2 separate regions of the Homo sapiens genome follow, and region 2 is linked to region 1. Evidence: fine-mapped expression QTL. Tissue or cell type: whole blood. Region 1 holds a variant in brackets; the other region holds the start of a gene. All regions are shown on one strand. Distances are between the middles of the regions.

Evidence for each region. PIP is the estimated chance that this variant, and not a neighbour inherited with it, causes the effect.
Region 2: it holds the start of DIP2C, and the variant in region 1 is fine-mapped to the expression of DIP2C in whole blood (INTERVAL, PIP above 0.99).

The regions. Positions count from the first base shown.
Region 1 is chr10:575,277-583,276 of GRCh38, forward strand. The region is part of intron 1 of DIP2C (disco interacting protein 2 homolog C); the gene reads right to left. Among named protein-coding and RNA genes, the nearest start is that of DIP2C-AS2, 49 kb to the right of the region's middle. The variant G/A (reference allele first, on the strand shown) is at 4,140.
Region 2 is chr10:685,833-693,832 of GRCh38, forward strand. DIP2C (disco interacting protein 2 homolog C) reads right to left here and starts at 3,836. Exons shown (of 37, transcript NM_014974.3): 1 at 3,662-3,836. The coding sequence starts at 3,746. RefSeq lists an enhancer at 4,211-5,146.

The DNA.
Region 1 (8,000 bases):
ATCCAGTCTTTGTGATTGCTTTTATAAAAAGTAAAATTCTCATTTGAGGATCATATACATTAACTGAAGTTTTCAAATGAAGGGACTGGTAAACTTCAGGGCATATGATTTCTGCCATACACGAGGGGAGCAGTGAGAGAAAGGAGCTGGGATCAAGTGTGCTGAGGCCGTCCTAGGACTGAAACTCAGCTTCTGCCAAAACAAACGCAAAAGTCTCTCAACTTCGACAGCGAGCTCTGCTGAGAGTGTCAAGATGTTGAAGTCGCAAAGGGGCTTCTCCCTGCTATGGGCACGTGTGATCCTTGCAAAAACATAGCTCAGCATCATCAAAACCCAGAAAAGAACACAAGCCTTCCAGACATGACATCCAAGAGCAGAAGGGAGCAGAGTCCAAGCTTGCTCAGCAGAACTGTTCCTGGAGGAGAACAGCACAGAGGAAGTCATAGGGAGGGCAGGGCAAGCTACAGCAGCCTCCATCTCGCCGCAAGCAGGGCCAGAGCCAGGGGCACAGTTTCCTCCCACCCAACTAGGAAGCGCAAGGAGCCAAAGAAGAGTCAATTTAGGGTCATTTTCAGAAACGTGCAACAATGAGAAACAATCTGGTCTTACCTGCGCCTCTCCTCCATGGTAACAGCTGAGCTCGCACTTTCAGGATTTCAGTGGTTTTGTGTCTGTCACATCCCCCACCTCCTTGCAGATGCTACTCCTGCACGTGGGTGCCAGTCTCTGTCCTGCTCCTGAGGCCACACCTGTTGCCATCCAGCACAGTGACCAGGAACTCACCTTTGTCCGGGAGAAGCAAATGCAGAGTTCACACGCTCCTGTACGGGTTTGCTGACCAAGAATCTAACTACGCTGTCGGATTCCAGATGTGCTGGCACCAAGCAGAATGTCACATGTCCAGCATTTATAAATGGTATCAGTGGGGTTCTCCTGGGACTCCCAGGCAGCTGCAGAAGGAAGGGAGCTGTCGCCCAGTTATCCCAAGCCAAAGCAACACTGCGAGGCAAACGCCACAGACCACATCACACTCGAGCACTCACTGACTCTTGACAATTACTCATACGTGTGTTGAAAGGCAATGTTAAGAAGCGTTCAGGGTACAGGAGTCAGACAGGCCTGGTCTCAGCCATGGGACAGCAGTAACTGCCCACAAGTCCCGTATCTAAGCCCTGACTTGCCCATCCGGCATTCCTTCAGAAACAATGCCCACCTCACAGTGCTGCCATGAGCGCTAAATTAGCATGTACATACACAACCACATTCATTTCAATTGTGCTTTCTACTCCAATTTAATACAACCAGGTGCTATCATTGAGACTGAATAACCAATATTAAAACAGAAGATCAGGCCAGGGATGGTGGCTCAGACCTATAATCCCAGCACTTTAGGAAGGTGAGGTGGGTGATCACTTGAGATCAGGAGTTGGAGACCAGCCTGGCCAACATGGCAAAACCCCATCTCGACTAAAAATAAAAAATTAGCCAGGCATGGTGGCACGCGCCTGTAACCCCAGCTACTTGGGAAGCTGAAGCATAAGAATCTCTTGAACCTGGGAGGTGGAGGAGGTTGTAGTGAACCAAGATCGTACTGTTGTGCTCCACCCTTCCAGCCTGGGTGACAGAGCAAGATTCTGTCTAATAAAAAAAAAAATAAGAGGGCAAGATGAAAACTAATTGCCAAGGTCCACATTCCATTTACTTAAAATATAAAATTCATTAGCTGGTAGTTGATCCAGTTTTTTCTTACTTCGTTACAATCTTGTATATCTTTCTAACACTGCTCAGCATGTTTACATTTGAACACACCTCAAGTGTGACTAACAACAAAAAATAAAGCGCAGATATTCCATAAATGAGTAAGTTCCAGTATGGCTGCATCCTACTGCAATTAATCCTTTGACAAGGTAAAACTGAGCCATCCTGACATAGCACTGACACATGGTACAAGAAGAATGACCTCCAGTTAAGTCACTGGATTTAGAGAACATGTAAATACAGTTTATCACTAATTCACTAGCGATTAGCAAAAATTTAGAGGAAGAAGAAGTATCGGTACTGTAACTAGAAATAAAGGCAAAAATAAGCATGAGAAATTAGTCACGTTTAAGTCAGTACCCTTTCTATGTGGCCGTAACAGTTTGCACACCTGTTGTGTGTACTTTCTCATGCTAAGCCGTCACCAAGCTCTCTATGAAGGTGGTAAGAGCTTCGCGAGTCGCAGAGCCTCGTATTCCTATTTAAACCTTCAAGAGCCAACACCACACTCAGCACGCAGTGAGAACTCTGAATGCTCAGAGGAACGCATGATGGGATGAAGGGCCCCAGCCCTGCCATCAGCCTGCTGCTTATTTAAAGTATAAAACAAAGCCCTGCCTTCAAGGTGCTCAGATCTAACTAATACAAGGTTTTGCTTTTAACAAGCTAAATAACTAGTAATGATGAAGACTCTGAACACCTGGGAGAAATGTAAGGCAACCTAGTAAGAGGAACTTGGCTGAGACTAAACCCAGAGATGTTTTGTTTTGTTTCTTTTGTTTTTTTGTGTTTTTTTTTTTTTAACCACAAAAGAAGAAAGAACTTAAGAACCTTTTGGAAAGTTGGGAGCAATTTCTATTTCTCCATGGTAGAACCTGGAATTTACCTTTGAGACAGACTGTCCTTCTGTTCTGAAAAATCAGATTATTCTTGCAATCCTCCATCAAGGGTGAAATTCCCAAAGGTGTGGAAAACTAAGTACTAATTTTAAAAATCCAAATAACTACAATCTTAGATTTGAGATTATTCTCAAATTCCACATTTGGAAATGTTTTGCACAAAGTCCTTATTTTCCCTGTTTACTCGAAAGCTCTCTATTCTTCTTTTATCCTAAATATCTTCTTTCTCATCCTTCCAAACAGTACCTGAAGATGAACTTACATATCATTTTCAACGTTAACAAAGAAGATACTGCATTTGTCATGAACTGTTTATATTCACAACACTAGGAGGGATTTTGCTACATCATGAAGAACACAAGGCAGTAAATACTCCACGAATAAAGAACAGTAGAAAATGAACACGTTTCCTGATGAGTGGCGACTTCTCATTTATTGAGCTGAGGGCTGACAAAGTTGTGATATGGAAAGCTAGACAGCTGCTATATTAGTTCTACCTCACTGAAATCACCAAGTCCCTGTTGTTTCGTTTCTCTCATCTGGGGATGAAACACACCTCACAGAGCTGTTTATGATGTCAGGAACACACACATCAAGGAAGTGATTGGTTCCTAAATCATTGCAAAGCATCTACTAACCTGCCAAATTTCACTAGCTTGTAATGAACAACTGTTTTCATCCTATACTCTCCGGTGCTAACGAGATGGTGTGTTCCGGGATCCCTGCAGGGGCCCTATTCCTGTTGCCATAGAGCACACACACATCTAGATCCACATACTATATGTACATAGGTACAGTGTAACATGTGTACATGCATAGTGTACACACATCCAACTACATATAGTGTACAAGCATAAGTGCACTATAACATGTGTGCATGCATAGAGAGCACACACATCCAGATCCATATAGTGTACGTACATAGGTACACTAACACACATGTACGTGCATAGAGCATACACACATCCAGATCCACAGTGTGTGCACATAGGCACACTGTAACATGTGTACGTGCATAGAGCATTCACACATCCAGATCCATGTAGTGTACATATGTAGGTACACTATAACGTGTATGTGGTAGAGCGTACATACATCCAGACCCAGTGTACAAACATAAGTGCACAACATGTGTATGTGCATAGAGCATACACACATGCAGATCCATGTAGTGTAGGTACATAGGTACACTAACATGTGTACATGCGTAGAGCATACACCCAGATACAGTGTACAAACCTAAGTGCACTATAACATGTACATGCATAGAGCATACACACATCCAGATCCATTTAGTGTACGTACATAGGTACACTAACATGTGTACATGCATACAGCATACACACATCCAGATTCATGTAGTGTACACACATAGGTACACTATAATACGTGTGTACATGCATAGTGTACACACACCCAAATGTAGTGTACAAACAAGTTCACTATGTGTGTACAGTGTACACACATCCAGATCCATATAGC[G/A]TATGTACATAGGTACACTATAACACATGTGTACATGCATAGAGCGTACACACATACAGATCCAGTGTACAAACATAAGTGCACTATGTGTGTACATGCAGAGAGCATACACACATCCAGATCCATAAAGTGTACATACATAGGTACACTATAACACATGCGTACATGCATAGAGCATACACATCCAAATAGTGTACAAACATGTGCACTGTAACATGTACATGCATAGAGCAAACATCCAGATCCATAGTGTATGTACGTAAGTGCAGTATAACATGTATGTACACATAGTGTACACACATCCATATCAATACAGCATACATAGGTACACTATAATGTATGTACATGCAGAGCATACACATCCATATCCATATAGCATATGTACATAGGTACACTATAATGTGTACATGCATAGCATGTACACACATCTGTACAGTGTACATGCATATGTACACTATAACACATGTACATGCATCTAGCACACAATCTATATGCATACAATGTACATATAGGTACACTATAACATGTATGTACATGAATAAAGCACAGCCATAGCCAATGTACATATACAGGTACACTATAACATGTATGTACATGAATAGCATGTACACGCATCTCTATCCAGTGTACACAGGTATACTATAACCTGTATGTACATGCATATAGCATACACATGCACATTTGTATGTACATAGGTATAACATCTATATACATGCATATAGTGTACACATATCCGATGTACAGTGCACTACAGCATGCCTACACATGCGTAGTGTATACATATGCACATATATATAATGTATATATGTCAGTACACTAACATATACATGTGTAAAGTATGTACATATGCAGTACATAGTGTATGTACATATGCAGCATGCGTACATTAGTGTGCACATATCCACAAGTTTATTCAGTGTGCGTAGTGTACATGCATGCTTACAGTGTGCACACATGTATATATATAAGTACACAAATGTGCAAATACCCATATGGTGTATGTACACAGGTACATATATGGCGTTAAATACATGCATGTATGTACACATATGCAGTACAGATACATGTCCAAATAGTGTGGATATAATAGTGCCCATAGTTATGCACATATGTACACATGTACATGCATGCCCATAGCATGCACACATGTAGGACACATGTAGTGTACATACCTATACATTGTAAATACATGTACAATGGCAATACATAGTACGCATACACCACATACAAGTACACATTTGTATAGTACACATATACCGAGACCCAGAACAGGCCATGAATATTAACGCTGCAGAAAGGCTTCCAGTTCCACATAATTTTTTTTTCCAAACTGTAATAGAAGTCATACAAAGAGGGTTTTAAGGAAATAATTTTCATGAATAAAGCTAGTGACAAAAACACAGTGAGAAGGGCGCAACCACTTTCTGTCAGAGCTCTGGCTTGACTGTGGAGTTCAGAGGTTTCCTAACATAGTACACGTCAGGACTGACTCACGATGAAGCACTCCTTAAAAAATTAGAAGTGTGTCCTCATGTTTTGGCGTTTGAGACAAAGCCTCTTATTTAATCGAGTTCTGACAATTTGACTCACAGTATTCTGGCAGATTATTCATTTTCTGGTGAGAGAGACCAATGTCCCAGGGTGAGGGCAACACCAAGCCCTTCAGGGTCAGCTTTTCTAGGAGCGATGTCTGGCAGAATGCAATCCAACACCAAAGTAGGATTCCCCACCACAAAGTGGACATCCCCCACCTGGCCACTTAGACGCTTTCTGATACTTACTCTAGTCTACTTGTTTCCCTTTCTTGAATTCAGCTGGGGAAAAAACAACAAAAACAGCCCATGTGTTTGTATGTCTAAAAAGTTAATACATCCACACCCAACTTTCTAAATGAGAGATGGCAAGTATGATGGTCAAACAGTGGCCACTGTTGACAAAATACAGGCAGTCTTCTGCAAATATGAGTTTCTAGGAATACAAAAGTCAAGGGAATTTACTTAACATGTTAAGCTGTCAAAGGTGCTAATCAAAAATGTACTTAGAGGTTTTTTTTAAAGTTATATTTGAAGATTTTTAAGTTGCAATACTTAAAAGCCTCTAGAAAAAGAAAAGATACAAGTATCTGGAAGATTTATACTAAATGATTTTAATGTATTTTTGGTAAAGTTAAATAAGGTCAGCCTTGAAGTAATGGGTTCCATTACCCTCTGAGGCCATGGATGGAACCCACCACCACGAGAGAATCAAACAGCAAGGCTGCACACACAGGATGCAGGCAGTGAGCCGGGGCTGGCTGGTTGTCAGGTTCTGGGTCAGTTCTACCCGGTTCTGCCCAGGCCCTACTGGAGATGAAAACTTGTCCTTGAGAAGCCTTCAATCCCCCACCTTTCAAAATCTAATCCTCTCCAACTGAGGTCCGAGTCCAAAAATCTACTGACATCTTAGCACATGTTAGGCCAGCTGTCCCCAGCCTTTTTGGCACCAGCGATGGGTTTACGTGGACGACAATTTTTCTGGGGGGTGGTTTTGGAATGAAACCGTTCCACCTCAGGTCAGGCATTGGATCCTCATAAGGAGCACCTCCGAGATCCCTCACGCACAGTTTACAATAGGGTTCCAACGTCTATGAGAACACAGTTTACAATAGGATTCCAGTGTCTATGAGAATCTAATGCTGCCACTGATCCAAGAGGAGGCGGAGCTCAGGCAGTCATGCTCACTCACCGGCCACCCACCCCCTGCTACAAAAACCCGGTTCCTAACAGACCGTGGACTGGCACCAGTCTGCAGCCCAGGGCTAAGCCCTACCGGCCAGCACCCACACCAGCCCAGGTGGAGACACCACTCGTGACCCTGCTGGGCAGAAAGGAAGCCTGAGGGCAGCTCCCTGACCAGGATGCCATGCACCCAACCCAAATACAGAGGTTCTCCGTAAAAACCCACCGTACACTTAACATAAAACAGAGTCACACCGGGGCAACATAACAAGACCCCATCCCTGCAACAAAGAAAAGAAAGTTAGCCAGGCATGCTGGTGCGCGCCTGAGGTCCCAGCTACTTGGGGGACTGAGGTGGGAGGATCGCCTGAGCCAGGGAGGTCCAGGCTGCAGTGAGCTGGGATCACACCACTGCATGCCAGCCTGGGTGACAGAGCAAGACCCTGTCTCAGAAAATATAAATAAACTAAAAACCAACAGAAACTGGATGCGTTTAGGTGGAGGAAACACCGCAGAAGACTAGAGAATGGTGTGATAGCGTTTCTATCAGGAAGAAAAGCGTGTCTCCAAACCAAGTGTTCACGCCCTTGTGAGACCCTGTGCTTGGGAAGCACCAGCGTGGCCACGTGGCCGGCCTCTTCCTGGTTTAAATATAGTGGAATCAGACACTGTAATGACACAAAGGGGCTATGACAAAACCTGGAGGTTCTAATTGAGAAAATTATATACCTAAGTTCCTATGATATAGTCTCAAAACAATAGAAGGAAGGTACCATTTTCAAATAAAATTTCTGATGTATATTCAAGTGTTACCTCTTGGGAAAATGGGGAAGACTAATTTTCTCCATAAACAAAACACACAGCACTTTGCCACACATAATACATGGCGATTTATGGCAGTTGCCACATATTTTCACATGTATTACCTTTTGGGCATCTTCTAGGTTTGCAAGAATCAGTGACTACTTTTATCCCCCACAACACACAGAGAAATGCATGAGCATATCTCCTCCAATGGAGCCTTCACCATAAATACACTCATAGGAAAAAGAACGTTGTACTCCAAGTGCATCTGCAAACGCAGTTTTCTTCTGAAAAGCCAAGGGGCATGCAAAGCAAACACGGCATATCACTAAAGCGCAAA
Region 2 (8,000 bases), 110 kb after region 1:
CACCTGTAATCCCAGCTACTCAAGAAGCTGAGGCATGAGAACCACTTGAACTCAGGAGGCGGAGGTTGCAGTGAGTTGAGCTCATACCACTGCACTCCAGCATGGGAGACAGAGTGAGACCGTCTCAAAAATTAAAAAATAAATAAGACATGAGTTTGTCTTTATGGGGAAGTTTTCTGCTTCCACTCCAATTTGTTTGGCAATTCCATGTAAAGTATCAGTTATTAATGAAATTATTTTTAGGCCCTTTAAAGCCACAAAAAAGAATACCCAATTATAAAGGGCAAAAATGTAGGGAAGAGAAGGGAGAAGAAAATATTCTGGGGAAAGGAGTATGAGAAAGCAGCCGCCACAGCCCTCTCATTCCTTGACCCTCCCCAGAATGGAGCTCCAGATCACCTGGAGGCCTCCCCACCCTCATGGCCTCCTCACCTGCAGGGCCTCCTCAGCCACAGGGCCTCCGCACCCTCACGGCCTCTCCACCTGCGGGGCCTCTCCACTAGCACAGCCTTCCCCCCACGTGGTCTCCCCACCTGCACAGCCTCCTCACCCGAGGGGCCTCCGCACCCTCATGGCCTCCCCACCTGCACAGCCTCCGCACCCACACAGCCTCCCCACCCGCACAACCTCCCCACCCACACAGCCTCCTGACCGTGTGGCCTCCTTACCTGCATGGCCTCCTCCCTGGCTCACACTCAGACCCAAGTATGTGAGGAGATGACCCCCCTGGCCACACAACCTGAATGTATCCCCACATGGATTCGAGGCCATCAGCTCCCACAAGAGGGCTGCCCAGCACTTCTCCCCACAGAGAGCCCTTGTGTTTTGCTGGCCGCATGCTCTGTGGTGTGAGCTGGCCTCACCTTCCCCTGTGAGGGGGCACAGGGCACGGGACAGGGACAGGCAGTGGAAGAAGGATGGAGCCCTCGGCCCCGCAGCAGGAAGTGCCCCTGCAGCCCTGCAAAGCAGGACACCAGCAGTGCATGTAATGGCGCCCAGCAGGCGGGCACAGCAGAACTGGACCAGGGTCTAGAAACCCACACAATGCGTAACCCACGCAGGCTGGCAGCCCACACAGGAACCTCAGGGGAATGCTCTACTCTTTCCTTCAGTCTATGTTATGTGCTTAAAACGGAACTTTTTCCATCCTCCTCTGTAGGAAATGAGCACTGGAAATTCCACATATGTTTCTATAATATTTTCTGATATTTTAATAAAATGATGACAACCAACTTAAAGAATTCTCTCCACTTGAATTTTGATTGAAGATGGGAAATAATTCAGCATTAACAGCTGTTTTCAGCTTTCACTCTGAAAGCAGATACATTGAGGAATTTTTGAAGTCCAATAACATAAAGAAACACAGAATTTTGATCCTTCAATTCTTGGATTTCTATTAAGCAATACTGGAAAACAAGTTGATTCATCTAATTTAAGCCTGTAAAACTGTTTTATGTGGTTATGAGACAGAGAATTCCAAATGACCTTACAGCACTACCCCCATAAACTCAACCTGGGCAAACCCACACTTCACAGCAAAGTTAAAGACCATCCAGCAAACAGATGAGGCAGTGGGGCCAGCACAGGCCGGAGGGTGCAGAGAGGCTGAATAGAGCCACGGAGCAACCCTCTCACCCTTTCTTCTTAAATGTGTAGCTCAGATCTCAGCAAGATTCATGTGGAAGGAAAAATATAATTAGGCTTCCTGCATGCAAACACACACACCCCTTTCTCTGCCTGGTCTCTCAATAAGAAACTAACTCATTAAGCCCTTTTTAAAAAACCTGTACAGACGCAAGGTGTTCACAGGGAATTCGGCTGAGCACACCTTCGTCGAAAGTGGCTTTGCCATCATCTGGGCAGCAAGACAGTATCACTCACCCTCCAAGAGCAACTGACAGGCAAGTGTCGTCACCTCAAAAGGCCACAATGCCCAACACAGGACACCCATTCCCATAGACATCCCAGACTCTGGGAACAAATGTGGGTCCAACTTCTGGGCTAGCAGTGGGTGGGGGAACCCTCAGATGGGGCTCGCCCTGCTGAGCTCAGGGGCGCTACGCTCTGCTGACCTGGATGGGGCACTGACACTTCACATCAGTGTGATGCAGGCAGCACAGAAGCCCCTGTCCTGAGACAGCGAACACGGAGGGTGCTGCAGGCAGGGGTGCACCTGGGCCGAGACGCAAGCCGGGAAACCTACCCAAGGCTGACACAATCAGATAACCAGGGTGGGCCTTTTGCAAATGATACACTCCTTACCCACCAAACGAGCTGTCTGCACTGCACAATCTACTTACCAGTTTACATCCGAACCCTGCACACGGCAGCTCCCGCCTCCTAGCCATGCCCTCCTCATCCTCAGCTCCTCAGGAGGGCAGCAGCCAAGCCCACAGGCCTGGAAGACTCTGCCCCCCGCCAACTGTGTCACGTTACAGGACACTGACACACCTCGCGGAACCCCACATCTGAAACTGAAAAACAGTACCATTTCCCGTCCCCAGAAGTCTGGAAAGGCAGTTGGCTGCACACCATGGCCCCTGCTCACTCCCTTCTTTGCCCTGAAAGTGTTAAAAAGGAAAACATAAAGTCAACACCAGCTCCTCCCTGCCGGTGAAAATTGGCACGAATGAGTTTACTTTCTGGCTGCCGGCCCTCACAAAACCGTTACCCAAAAAAAGTTCACCATGCTAAACTGCTCCAAATATAAATGTGAGACGCGCCGGCCCACCCCCACCCCACCCCACGTTACAGGAATGGCCTGACCAGGATGAGCCCAGAGACGGCTAAATGCACATCAAACATTTCAGATTTGGGAACTTCAGTGGTTTTGGGGAAAAGACCTGGCAAAGCCCGATCTGAAACTTATGACAGTTGAGCACATGATCTCCGCCATGAAGAGCAAATAAGAGGCGTACACAACCCTCCATAAGACCGCGGTGGCTGATCTGCCACAAACCCTCCTACGAGAGGACCAGGACGGCAAGGCCGGAGCCCGGCCCGGGGGGAGGTTGACGATTCCGCCCAGCCCTCCCCGCGCAGCGCCCGCGAACAATGGGGGTGGGATCCCCCGGGCCGCGCCAGGACCGCTGCACGGCCTGAGCCACCAGAGATCGAACCCGGGGTCCAACGACAAGTTTCGCATTGAAATCTGGCCGGGCGTTCCAGGCCGAACCCGCCAGCGAGGAGGTGGCGCGCACCGCGCTGCTGCACCAAGGACGCCGCGGCTCCAGCGCAGAGCGCACGGGAAGGCCGATCCCGCCGGGCCCGCTGCATCCTGCGTCCCCGCGCGGCGCCCAGGCCCCACAGACACCCCCAGGGCGCGGGGGGATCGCGGCCCCACAAACATCCCAGGGCGCGGGGGATCGCGGCCCCACAAACACCCCCAGAGCGCGAGGGGATCCCAGGCCCCACAGACACCCCCAGGGCGCGGGGAATCGCGGCCCCACAAACGTCCCCAGAGCGCGGGGGATCGCGGCCTCACAAACGTCCCTAGGGCGCGGGGTCTGGGGGTCCGGGGGACGCGCACGCTCCGGGCTGGGGTCGCACCTCCCCCTCCGGGCCCGGCCCCCGCCCCGCCGCAGGCCCCGCGCCCCCAGCCCTCCGCGCGCGGCCCTCCCCGGTGACAGCGCGGCCCGGCCCGGGGCGGGGGCCCGGTTACCTTCCGACAGCTCCAGCTCCAGCTCGGCCAGGCGCGCCCGCACCTCCAGGGGCAGCGCCATGCCCTCCAGGCTGCGGTCCGCCATGCTCCGCGGGCGCCGCGCCCCGCACGGCCTCCTCTTTGTTCGCAGGCGGAGGTCTCGGCGGCTCCTCGCGCCCGGCGGAACCGCACCGAGGAGGAGGCGGCGGCGCGGGCGCGGGAGGCGGGCGGCGGGCGCGCAGGGACCTCCCTCCCCTCGGCGCCTCCTCAGCGCGGCCCCGCCACGGCCGCCTCGCGCGCCCCCGCGCCCCACGGTCCCCGGCCCGCCCCGCGCGCGCTCGGCCCCTCCCCGCAGGCGCTGCGGACCCGGACCCGGCCCTGCTGCTCTCGGCCCCGGCCCGGCGGGAGCGTCTCTGCGCGCGCGCGTCACGGGGCCGCGGGGGCAGGGCGCGCGCGCGCGGGGCGCGAGGACGCGCAGGAGCGGGAGCGCGCGGGGGGGCGCGCGGCCGCGTCGGCGAAGCGCGCGCTCCCGGGGGCGCGCTCGGGGGCGGGTTGGGGGCTCGGGGCCCGCGGGGCGGGGCGGGGCGGGGCGGTCTTGTCTGTCCTGGGCTCTGCGCGTCCAGCGGAGCCTGCGGGCCCGGCCCCAGAGCCTGGTCCACCCGGCTCCCTGCGAAAATCACGTCCTGGAGCCGCAGCTTGACGTCTGCGCGAAAACTCGCAGTGCCCCGGGTCTTGGAGGGCTGGTTTTTTGTTAATGAACATTTTAAGAGGCGGAGACGGAGCGCTAGGCTGGAAGTTTCGAATGCAACGACCAGCAGATGACCTTGAGCGACTCTGAGCCTTTGCCTGGAGGGTCAGTGTCCCCATCTGTGAAAAGGGGATGGGAAGACAAGGTTGGGTCACCTAATCTCCAAATGCCAGGTGGGCCCGAAAAGCCTGGCTCCAGCCCTCCCGGAACAGGCTGCAGGCCCCAGGGTTCCCACCGTCCTTCTCCTTGTGGGGCCATCAGCTCCCAGCCTCAGTGCCACCTCGGCGAGGCTGAAGCCCCGTCTGTGCCTCTAGTCCTGACCATCTGGGGAGGCCCTCGCATCTCCAACCGTCCACTGAGCAAACTTCCCTGGAAGCCCCTAGACACCCCAAACGCCACAAACCCTAAATGAAGCCAGCTGCTTCCAGTGACTCTTAGTCACTGGAAGTTCTGCTTCTCAGAACCGCCCCCGTTGTCTTCATCATCACCTTCCTCTGTCTCCACACATCCTCCCCAGTCTGTTGCACAAAGCCCCGACGACCTGGCCTCCTTTTCATCCTTGTACCCCCTCTTCCCAGCCCGGCCCCTCCCTTAGGCCCAGAGCTTCCTAAAGACCTCCTCGCCTCCCCGTCCTCCACGGGACATTGGCCAGCGCTGGCTCCCGGAGGCCCAGCTGCACTCACTCCCCTTTCAGAGTGGGCCGCAGGAACACAGGTCCCCCACCTCACCCCCCTACCCCTACCCCCCACCACCCCCCCACCCCGCTTCGACCGGAGCCCCCACCAGCCGGGACCCACCTGCACGGCAGCCTTGCGGCCTCCACACTCCGGCTCCTGCAAACAACGCGGCTGACCCGCAGCACCTCTGCTCCCGGCCTCCACCCCGGAGAGCCTGCCCCTTCTCTGCCCCTGCCACCCACAGCCATCCCTGACCCCAGGTCCAGAACAATCTCTCTCCTTTCTCTTCCTGCACCGGCCACTTCCCGCCCTCATCACGTTTGACCTTTTTTATCTTCTCTGTATTCTTTGTGAGTGTAAGCGCCTGGAGGACAGAGCCCATGCCTCACCCACCTTTGCCCTTCCCATGGATCTAGCAGTGGTGGCAACCGCCAGAGGTGTGTGCATTTCCTGTAAGGATCGGTCCTTTCAGTGGGGAATTGTGAGAATGACATTCGACGATGAGCTGGGAAACAGGAACCCCAAACCCGTGTGCTTCCTGCGCCGAGCCGTGTGCCTCCGCCTGGTGTGCGCCGTGGGTTCGTCCTTCGCTCCAGACTGCGTTCAATGCAACAGATACGGGTGGCACAAGCATGTGGCCCCACCATCATCTCTCCCCTTTGCATGATAAAGAGACCGACCAGCAATGCAGGGGCCGTGGGGAAGATCCCACACAGCCCCTACACGTCACAGATAAAAGTCCTTAGAGACAGAAAGGGGAGCAGAACCAGGATTCAAACCCCAGTCTCCAAAGCAAAGCCCTGAGTTCATTTCATTACAGCAAAGATGCACTGTGCATTCCAAGCAATAAATGGTGTCAAGTCCATTTAGGGCGGTATAATGTCGGAATAAAAAATATATATTCGCGGGCCAGGCACGGTGGCTCACACCTGTAATCCCAACACTTTGGGAGGCCAAGGCAGGTGGATCATGAGGTCAGGAGTTCAAGACCAGCCTAGTCAATATGGTGAAACCCCATCTCTACTAAAAACTACAAAAAATTAGCTGGGCATGGTGGCACACACCTGTAGTCCCAGCTACTCAGGAGGCTGAGGCAGGAGGATCACTTGAACCCGGGAGGTGGAGGTTACAGTGAACCGAGATCGCACCACTGCACTCCAGCCTGGGTGACAGAGCGAGATTCAGTCTCAAAAAAAAAAATACATATATATATATATATATATATATATATATATTCTTTTTGATGGGCCTTAATCATTTGCATATGATCCTATGACTGATGTTGGTTGCAAAGAAAACTTGTAATTTGCATTAAACACATCAATTGCAAACTCAGATTTTGAGCTGATGGTTCCTTTCAGCAGGTCTTTGGGCACCTACACATTACACGTGTGAGTGTGGGCTCTCGGTCTTAGACTGCCATTTCCAGGAGCCTGATAGATATCATCTTTATCTGGAACTCCTACCATCTCCTTGAAATTCATGCTGTCCACAATCAAACTCATCCTACCTACCAATACTTTCCCCCATGTACATTATTTCTGAGAGCAGCCTCCCTTTCACTTTGAGTCCCCTCAAGAACTTCTACCCACAGCATTTCTCTTGTGCGCCACCTGCTCCTGTCGAGGCCTCTGGCTATGGCCCATGTCAGGCCTTCAGAGCCTCCTTCCAGTCTTCCCACCACGGCTGTCAGATCACTCTTCTAAAAAGTCCCTCTTAGCACAGACCACAGGCCCCTTGCTGTACAACCCATGATTCTATGCCTGCAAACTGAAGAAATCCTTAATTGACACCAATGGTCTCACGAGCCCTGCACTAAACATTTCTCCTGCTTTCTGTTCCTCCCGTCTCTTTCAAGCTCCGAGGTTCAGCTGCAGAATTCCCAGCTGTCCATGGAGAGTCCCCACCTGTGGTGTCTGTTTTTCTAATGTGCTCCCTCCTGTCGTCTCCCCTTCCCCACAACCTGAGTCATAGCCGCACACGGAATTTCACCCAGTCCAGTCCAAGTTCAAACGCCACTTCTTCCATGCAGCCTTCCCAAATCTCCTGGTTAGAAAGATTCTCTCCCACCTGTGGAATTACACACCTCTTTATCCACCTGCTCTCCCTGGGATTGGTCATTTATGTGTGTGTTTTGTCTGGTGGCTGGCTTATCTATAATTGTCCCATTGTGTTGACTGACACCACAAACAGCATAGTGCCTCTGTCTGGAAGTGCAGACCAGCACAGGAGCGGAGAGGAGCAGCCCCTTCCTCGGTCTCATTCTGCTCCACCTGTGAGCAGCCTTGCGGAACGTGTGGTTGGTGAACACCTTGCCATCTTACGTGTTCCTAAGTGTAAAAACCTGGTTCAAATGTCTGCCCAGGCAGGAATGAAGGTGCCCAATAGATGTTTATTAGAATGAATCAAATAGACTCCCAGGGCTGTTGGCTTCAAAAGCTCTGCCAAACCCCCGAAATTTCCATCAGGGATTAAAGTCACGTTTTTGAGCTACTCCACAGTTTTGCCTAGACAAGTCTCGAAAACAGTGTTGTGAGCTCCACAGAGCGACAGCTACATGTATCTAATTAAACAATTAATTAATTACCATGCCAGCTAGTATTTGAGGACCCGTTTCTAGGTCTTGCTTTACTGTCTGCTGACGGGTAATTCGTCACCATTATTTACCCTAACTTCCAGGACCTCACCTATTTTTTTCTGTCTCACTGAATTCCAAGCCAATTCTAATGAGTGAAAAATTAATTACTTACGTGTAATGGGCTCGAGATTTCAGGAAATCTGACTGGGGTGGGAAAGAGTAGCAAAGGAATGTGTTGAATCAGAGCAGGCTGGAGGTATCGGTGCCAGGCAGAGAGTTTATTTATTCATGAGATCGCTAACAGGAAGGAAACACAAAGCTCTCAGGGAGTGGCTCCCCTGCAGAAATGCATCTCAG